2 separate regions of the Homo sapiens genome follow, and region 1 is linked to region 2. The links come from fine-mapping of genetic effects on gene expression. A gene starts in region 2. The other region holds a variant in brackets. All regions are shown on one strand. Distances are between the middles of the regions.

Region 1 (4,396 bases), 37 kb before region 2:
GCAGGAGTCTTAGACTTACACCAGTGGTTTGCCAGGGGTTCTCTGGCCTTCAGCCACAGACTGAAGGCTGTAATGTCAGCTTCCTCGATTTCAAGGCTTTTGAACTCAGACTAAGCCCCTACTGGCTTCCTTGCTCCCCAGCTTGCAGAGAGCCTATCGTGGGACTTCACCTTGTGATTGTGTGAGTCAATTCTCCTTAACAAACTCCCTTCCATATATACACACGTCGTATTAATCCCTAATACATAGCAGAACATAAAACCCAGCATGTGACCCTGTAAGCCTGCACAAGCCACACACCCATGAAGCCTGCCCCGAGAGGACACAGCATTTTTAGGACCCACACGGGCCCTGTCACCTGGAAGTAGAGTCATTAAACAAAATGAACGCTCCTTCTAATCCCATCCCCTGTAACCATGTGTGCACATTTTTACATAGACACTCTGATTACCGTGTTCCGATATGGTTATATAACTAACATTTAACTAGAATTTACTATATACCAGGCCCTGGACTAATTATTTTACATGCGTTATCTCATTTAATCTTGACAAAAACCCTAGGAAGTGAGAACTCCCGTCATTCCCATTTTGCAGATGAGGAATTTGAGGCTAGGGAGGATACCTTATTTGCCCCATATTTATTTGCTAGAACGAGGCACTCAGCCTGAGTAGGGATGAAATTGAGAGGAGGCAGGAGAGGAACTAGCCATGGGAGAAAAATTTAAGAAGCTGCAAAAAAAAAAAAAAAAACCCTCAGTAATTAAGATAGATACTACTTCAGCGCAATGCTTTAATTAAACAATTTACTTTGAGATTATTGTAGATTCACATGCAATTGTGAGAAATAATACTCCAGGCACCCTTTATGCAGTTTCTTCCAGTAGTAACATACCATATAGTACAATATCACAACTAGGTCATTTGTATTAGTACAGTCAAGATACAGAACATTTCCATCCCATCCACACAAAGATCCCTCATGTTGCCCTTTTATAAATACCCCCAACATTGCTCCCCATACCGCACTTCCCTTCCACCTATGGTCCAAAAGATCCCTAGAGCTCTACCTCCTATCTGGTGTATTAGAAGGTGTAGTCGTCCATTTTCACACTGCTATAAAGAACTGCCTGAGACTGGATAATTTAGGTAGAAAGAAAAAGGTTTAATTGACTCACAGTTCTGCTTGGCTGGAGAGGCCTCAGGAAACTTACAATTGTGGCAGAAGGCAAAGGGGAAGTAAGGACCTTCTTCACGTGGAGGCAAGACAGCGAGCAATGAGGTGAACTGCCAAACACTTTTAAACCATCAGATCTCGTGAGAACTCAGTCACTATCATGAGAACAGCATGAGGGAAACCGCCCCCATGATCTAATCACCTCCTACCAGGTCCCTCCCTCAACACGTGGGGATTACAATTAGAGATGAGATTTAGGTGAGGACAAAGAGCCAAGCCATATCAGAAGGAAAATGCGATGATTTCCATTCTCTGAAACATATCATTGTACCTCTAATGTTATTTCTACTTCTGGTAATGAGACTTATATTTGTTTTACAAGAAAAGCCATTGGAAAACGTTTTGTTAATATGTCAGAGTGACTGTCGCTGTTCCTTAAATCCTTCTCTAGCACCACAGAACCCAGATATAGAGGAATCTATGCCCTTTTTTACTCTGTGACAGTAAGACATATCTGATACCAAGGTCCGTATTTCCTAGTCATATACATGTTACCAATTATTTTATCTGAAGAATATTTTAAAATCATTCTTCTGCAAATTTGCTTAGTGTTTCCTCTACGTGTTACTCAAGGTTGTTTCCCTGGCTAGCAACAGTGTGAAAACTACGTGCTTCTTAAGAGGATGGGAGGGCTGGACACGGTGGCTCACGCCTGTAATCCCAGCACTTTGGGAGGTCGAGGCAGGTGGATCACCTGAGGTCAGGAGTTCAAGAACAGCCTGGCCAACATGGTGAAACC[C/G]TGCCTCTACTAAAAATACGAAAAAAAAATCAGCCGGGCTTTCTGGCGGGCACCTGTAATTCCAGCTACTTGGGCGGCTGAGGCAGGAGAATTGCTTGAACCCGGGAGGCAGACGTTGCAGTGAGCCAAGATCGTGCCATTGCACTCCAGCCTGGGTAACAGAGCAAGACTCTGTCTCAACAACAACAACAACAACAAAAAGGTAGGAATCACAACAGTCCCAGATGTAAGTCCCTGCAGGTGATGTTTGTAGAATGGAAAAGAAGCCTCATAGGTAATCAACAAAATGATACCAGATTGTGCTGGCTTCACCCTTGTCCACCCATTTAATTGCAAACACATGGAAGGACAAATCAGCTGACTCTCTGGGGTGAACCAGGCAGGGACAGAGCCTAAACCAGAGAGATACCAGATTTACTTGGCAAGACCATATTTTCCTGAGGTGCTTCAGACAACTTACAGATGACACAGCTGCAGGTCTTGGCTATTCAGATTTAGCTGCCTCATGGTGCAAGAAACTGCTGTGCAGAGGCAATGATCATTTTTATGAGTATGGTTCTCAAAAATCTGTGAAACTATTTGTTTTTGCTCTGTCTTGCTAAACCGCCCTTACCTGTTCCTCTCCTACAACTATAAACCTTGATTGCTGGTCAGTCAACACAGGCTTTGTCCACATCCACAAAAATCTAAAGACAGAACTAAGGCAATTACTAGAACGGTGCTTCACAAACATCCATGGGCATTCAAGCTGCCTGGGATATTGTTACGATGCAGGCTGTGATTCACTATGTCCTGAGTGGAGCCTGAGTTCCGCATTTCTAACAAGCTGCCAGGCATTGCTGATAGGGACAAGGACCCAGCTCACCAAGACCTGCAATTGAACTCCCTGAGATTAGATTCAGGCCATGATGAAAGAAACTGGGGTTTTTCTTTCTTTCTTTTTTTTTTAAGGGGCTTGGATTGACTTAGTTAAACAAAGGGCTTGTGGTCAGCTAGTGCCTCTCTAGTGGATGAGATCATAACATGTGAGAGGGCATGAAAAGGACATGAAGATGAAGTTTGTCCTGGCACTATTAGAATCCATGGTTGCAGTGGCCCCTGAAGCCCTGCTGAATCCCATGGAGTCTGGTTGTTAACAGTGCATTGGATTGCCAGAGCCAATAACTTCCTTGCTTTGCTTAAGCAGGTTGAATTGGACTCTATCTCTTAGAACCATGATTGCTCCAACGATTGCGTCCAAATTGTGATGCAATGACTTCATAAATTATCATATATCCCTACAGAAGAATTATACAGCTGTCAAAAAGTATTATTTCAAAAAACTTATTCGGATGGACAAATAATACAAGGGTAAATGACAAAGGCATAACATCAATGTATCTATACAGAATAATCTGAATTATATAAATTCGAGAAGAATATTAAGTAAATGCTCCAAAACATAGACAGTAGTTAAGGTCGACTGAATAACCCCCTCCAATATCTCCATATCCTAATCCCTTGAACATATGAATTTTATTTTATATGGCAAAAGAGACTTTGCTGATGTCATTAAATTAAGGACGTTGAGATGGAGAGATTATCCTGGATTACCTGGGTTGGCCCAATATGATCAGACTGGTCTTTATAATAACTCAGGAGAAGGCTCAAGCCTGTAATCCCAGCATTTTGGGAGGCTGAGGCGGGCGGATCATGAGGTCAGGAGATCAAGACCATCCTGGCTAACACAGTGAAACCCCGTTTCTACTAAAAATACAAGAAAAATTAGCCAGGCATGGTGGCAGGCACCTGTAGTCCCAGCTGCTCGGGAGGCTGAGGCAGGAGAATGGCTGAACCCGGGAGGTGGAGCTTGCAGTGAGCCGAGACTGCGCCACTGCACTCTAGCCTGGGCGACAGAGCAAGACTCCGTCTCAAAAAACAAAAAAAAAAAAGAAAACTCAGGAGAAGGCAGAGTTAGAGGAAAAGGGGATATGATGCCAGAAGCAAAATTGAAGATGAGGGAAGGAGGTTACAAAGAAATGTGGGTAGCCCCCAGCAACAAAAAGGCAAGGAAACAGGTTTTCCCTAGGGCCTCTAAAAGGAATGAGCCCTGCCCACACCTTGACTTCAGCCTGGGAAAGTCAATTCAGAATTCTGATCTCCAGAAGAATAAACTTGTGTTATTTAAAGCCATTAAATTTGTGTTAATTTGTTATAGCAGCAATAGGAAACTAACACAATAATTGGCTCTGTACTTCCACTTAATCAACATATGCTACTTTTATAAGAAAAAGGCAACTTAATTTAAAGGAAGGAATAAGTATAGCTTGCTATAAGAGGTATTATGAATAACACTTTTAACAGTTGAATGTAGCTTGGTTGCTGTTGTTTTCTAGGACTGTAGGATATAATCACAGTGTAGTCTAATTTCAACACAGCAAG
Region 2 (4,396 bases):
ACTGCCAAAATTTTTAAAAACTGCCTGGCATGGTGGCTCATGCCTGTAATCCCCATGCTTTGGGGGCCGAGGTGGGTGGATCACCTGCGGTCAGGAGTTCAAGACGAGCCTGGTCAACGTGGTGAAACATTGTCTCTGCTAAAAAATACAAAAATTAGTAGGACGTGGTGTCACACATCTGTAATCTCAGCTACTTGGGAGGCTGATGTAGGGAAATCACTTGAACCCGGGAGGCGGAGGCTGCAGTGAGCCATGATCGCACCACTGCACTCCAGCCTGGGCAATAAAGTGAGACTCCATCTCAAAAATAAATTTTTTTAAAAAACTTAAGTGACATATAAATCAAATGTAATATATGTATTTAGTTTGAATACTGATTTTTAAAAGCCTTCTTTATCTTTTCAAGATACATGCCAAAGAAGTGATAAATAATATGCTCCAAAGCAACCCATCAGTAAGGAGAGGTGAGGGATTCAACAAGATTGGCCATGTTAATAACTGCAAAAGCTGGAGAGAGGTTTCATTATATTATTCTACCTTTGAGTTGTCTGAAAAATTCCAGAGTTAAAATAAATTTGTTAGAAAAATTGCTGTAGAATATAATTTTATGTGGCACTTCTCAACCTTTTTAATATCATAGCACTATATTTAAAATGTTAATATTTCTATGGCACACAGGAGTATATGGACAAATTGCTTGTAGACAAAAGCAATCAATTCAGGAGCAAAGACTACTGAAGGATTTGTTAGACAGCCCTAAAGACTAAGGGGATCAAAACTTTGGGGGTATCTGTAACCCAGCCGAGACCCTGCTTGAGAAATTCTGAACAAATACAGATAGCTGTTCATTAAGTAATCGTATGTGAGGAAAAGGAGACTATTAACACAGTATACACAGAAAAAGCCCATACTTTGTTATGGCTGTAGTTAGAGATGGGGGTTTCCTACGTTGCTCAGGCTCACCTCAAACTCCTAGACTCAGGCAACCCTCCTGTCTCAGCCTCCTGTGTAGCTACTAGGATTACAAGTGTGAGCCACCTTGCCTGGCTTAAAAGTCCATTCTTGTGCTTGTGTGAGTGTGTATAAAGAACTGGATGGATGACACTGCACATGTTAACAGTGATTATTCGTGAGTAGTGGTATTATGAGTCATTTTAATTTTCTTTTTTTGCTTTTTAAAAGTAAATATTCTACAATGAAAAAACTACTAAATTTCTTAATAGTTCTTCATGGCCTAGCCTCAATTTGCCTTCTTCCTAGTTTCACTCCCAAATATATTCTGTGCTGCAACCTCTTTCCCAGGCATTTCATAACTCCATTTCGTGTGAAGAGGTCTCCACAACAAGAAGTGTCATTCTTTTCTGTCATTCAAAATAGTTCTTCCTCTCAGAACTGAACAAGTGAATGGGCTCAAATGTTATCTGAAATCTGTCACAATTCTCTCCTCTCTCCTCTTCATCCCGACAAGCTTCCATCCTAAGTGTTCCCACATTTCAATGAAGTGGGGAAACATCAGACCTAGAGTGAAAACACACACTGCAGACTGACTTATGCACTTTACTGGCCATGAGGGAGCAGTATGTGGCATATAGGAGGTACTTAATAAAGCGAGTTGAATAAACAAATGTGCTTGGGCAGATTCCTTAATCTCAAGTACTGACTTTTTGCCCTGGACATCAAAGATGGTAACTCACAGGTTCACTGTGAGGCTTGCAGAGTTTTGGTTTAAACTAAGAAAAGCTATGCAAATGACAGCAACCATTTGAAGACGGGTACACTTTGGATACCGAAAAATGCTCTAGTACACTATACTCGTTTGAGCTTACAGCAATCTTCTAAGCAGTTATCATCTTTATTTTACAAATGAGGAATCCGAGGCTCAGAGAGGCTAAATAACTTGACAGAAATCACAGAGCTGGTAGAACTGGGATCAAGATTCGAAGTCGGATCTCTCTGCTATAATGTGCTCTCATTCGCCAGGCTAACGACACGTGATATTCACAGGGCACTGTCCAATCTGCCTCTATTATAGGTATTCGCCTGACCACCTTCACCTCTCCACTTAACTGTCAACTCCACGTGGGCGGGGCGTTTTGCACCTCCTGAGCTCGCAATGAAGGTCTGTGAGCAACGGCCTCGCCTCTACAACACCCGACGGACCCTCTGTGCCTCCTCCCCAGCCCCCCGGGCCCACCTTGTGGTGCACAGCTGCGTCTCCCCCATGAGGTAGCGGGGCAGCTGCTCCCGCAGCTGGATGCGGCCCCGCAGCGCCGCCTGACAGAAGGTGCCGTCCAGCAGGATCTGGTACGGCTCGCGGACTCCGAAGTTGTTGCGGAAGAAGCCAAGATGCTTCTTGGCATGTTTCTGCCTTGTGATCTTCATGCCTGGCTTACCGGGACCGAGGCCACCGGACCAGGAAGCATCAGTAAACGCCTCACGCACGCCCCAGTACCCTCAATGCCAGTTTCACCCGGAAATGAAGCGCCTTTGGCCACGGAAGCAAACGCCTCTGTCTTCCGGGCCTGCCCATTGGTTTACGTCATGTCCAGACCAGCGCGCGCTTCCACCGCAGTGCCCGCGCTTAAAGGGGCGGTCCCTTAGGGCGGAACTTGTGCGTACGCTGGAAAACCGCTGGGGTGCGCGATTCCGCACGGGGGCGCACATGCGCAGTCTGGGGCCACGGTAAAAGAAAATTACGAGAATACATTTAGCGTGTTACCTACGTTTTAGAGGCGCGTAGCAAGAGCTTCTCTGAAAGACTGGCAGTATAGTAGTAGTCAGTGATAATATTGAGCCTTAATATGTTCCAGACACTGTCCTAAGTGATTTACCTTACATTATTCCCCTGAATGTTTATAATTCCCAAGTGAAAGAAGGAAATGATATATTGGATAGCTATGAGTGGGGAGGTTTGTACTGGCTGCTTTCCCATAAAGAAATTAAGCACGTTCACGAAGGGCACGTAGTTTGTTAGTGTCTGGAACCCAGTTTTCGTGCCTGAAGTTCAAATGTTCTTGCTACACCACCATAGAAACTAACGTCACTCAGGAACCATTTGTCAGGGCAAAGGGTGCCACCATTTTGCATTTCCTCCTGCCTTAGGACCATCCTAAATCACTCGCATGGAGTGTTTTGGAAGAACTCTCAAGAGCTTCGTTTGCCTAGAGTCAGAATTCCTAACCTTGAGTCCTGGTTTTGCCACAAACCCAAGCCGTTTGATCTTGGGCAACTCCCGAAGAAAGCTGGGTTCAACTTCCTCACTGTCAAACTGGTTGTAGGTCTAGATAAGTTTCAAGTACTCTTTTTATGTGCATGGTCTCTGACATAGGAAGACTACATACTGGGCCAGTAACAGGAAGGCACAAAGCTGACTGGAGGTTTAAAAATTACTTGGTCAATTTGATTAATGAGGAGAATGAATCAGAAAATTTCAAGTTCTCCCGTGGCTAACTGTCGAGTATCCACTTCAAGGTAAAATAATCAAAGAATGGGGAGTATGGAATTTTGCATTTTTGTCCTTGCCTGGAATCTGTCCCAGATCTAGTTTTGGCTAAAGATTGAAAGAACCAGCACAGAAAATGATTTACAACGTGATTGAATGCATTGTTTGCATTTGGGGTTTTATTTCAATATGTAGGTTTATGAAATTGGAATAAGATCTATAATGTTAGCCCTGATCTGAGTCCCAGCACATCACTTAGATGGTTGCTTTCATTTAAACTTAAAATGAATTTAGGAATTGGAAGCCATGAAAACTTTTGCAGGGTTGGATTCAAGGTCTTTGAGTGTAATTGCTCAGTACTTTTCAATTTGAATCCTCTTTTTATCCCTGTATGCCAACTCTCTACTCCAACTATGCGCCCACCACAGACAGAGAAACGAGATACCACCTGAGTCTTGCAAAACAGTTAAAACATTTTTTCTTAAATAGCCTCAGATTTATCTACCAGCTCCTTGGCCACTTTTCAGTACTAAGAAAAATGTGGTGCAGCACTAGGGATTTTAGTCTTATCTTAGTTTTTGTTGTCGTTTTTTAATTTACCAAGCTACAGCACATTTTTTCCCCAAGCTCTATGTATATGACAGTGCCAGTTTGCACCCTATCTTTATTATGAAAACATGAAGATGGTCTATAATGGTGATTATCAAGTTTAAAACAAAGTTTTCGGCCGGGCATGGTGGCTCATGCCTGTAATACCAGAACTTCGGGAGCCCGAGGCGGGAGGATCACTTGAGCCCAGGAGTTGGAAACCAGCCTGGGCAAAATAGGGAGCCCCTGTCTCTGCTAAATTAAAAGAAGACAAAAAGAGAAAAAAATAGAGTTTTCTATTACAGCAGTGTTTCTCAAAACAAGGTCCTGGGATATGCAGAAAAAGCTCTTAGTGTGCTTGTTTAA

Evidence for each region. PIP is the estimated chance that this variant, and not a neighbour inherited with it, causes the effect.
Region 1: its variant is the best candidate, but not a certain one, in a credible set for the expression of UTP23 in whole blood (INTERVAL, PIP 0.80).

The regions. Positions count from the first base shown.
Region 1 is chr8:116,801,296-116,805,691 of GRCh38, reverse strand. The region is part of intron 2 of LOC112268030 (a long non-coding RNA gene); the gene reads right to left. Among named protein-coding and RNA genes, the nearest start is that of UTP23, 37 kb to the right of the region's middle. The variant C/G (reference allele first, on the strand shown) is at 1,976.
Region 2 is chr8:116,764,590-116,768,985 of GRCh38, reverse strand. It overlaps UTP23 (UTP23 small subunit processome component), which reads right to left and starts at 2,462. Exons shown (of 3, transcript NM_032334.3): 1 at 2,195-2,462. The coding sequence starts at 2,382. It also overlaps a transcript of EIF3H not described here. RefSeq lists enhancers at 2,076-2,385, 2,396-2,545.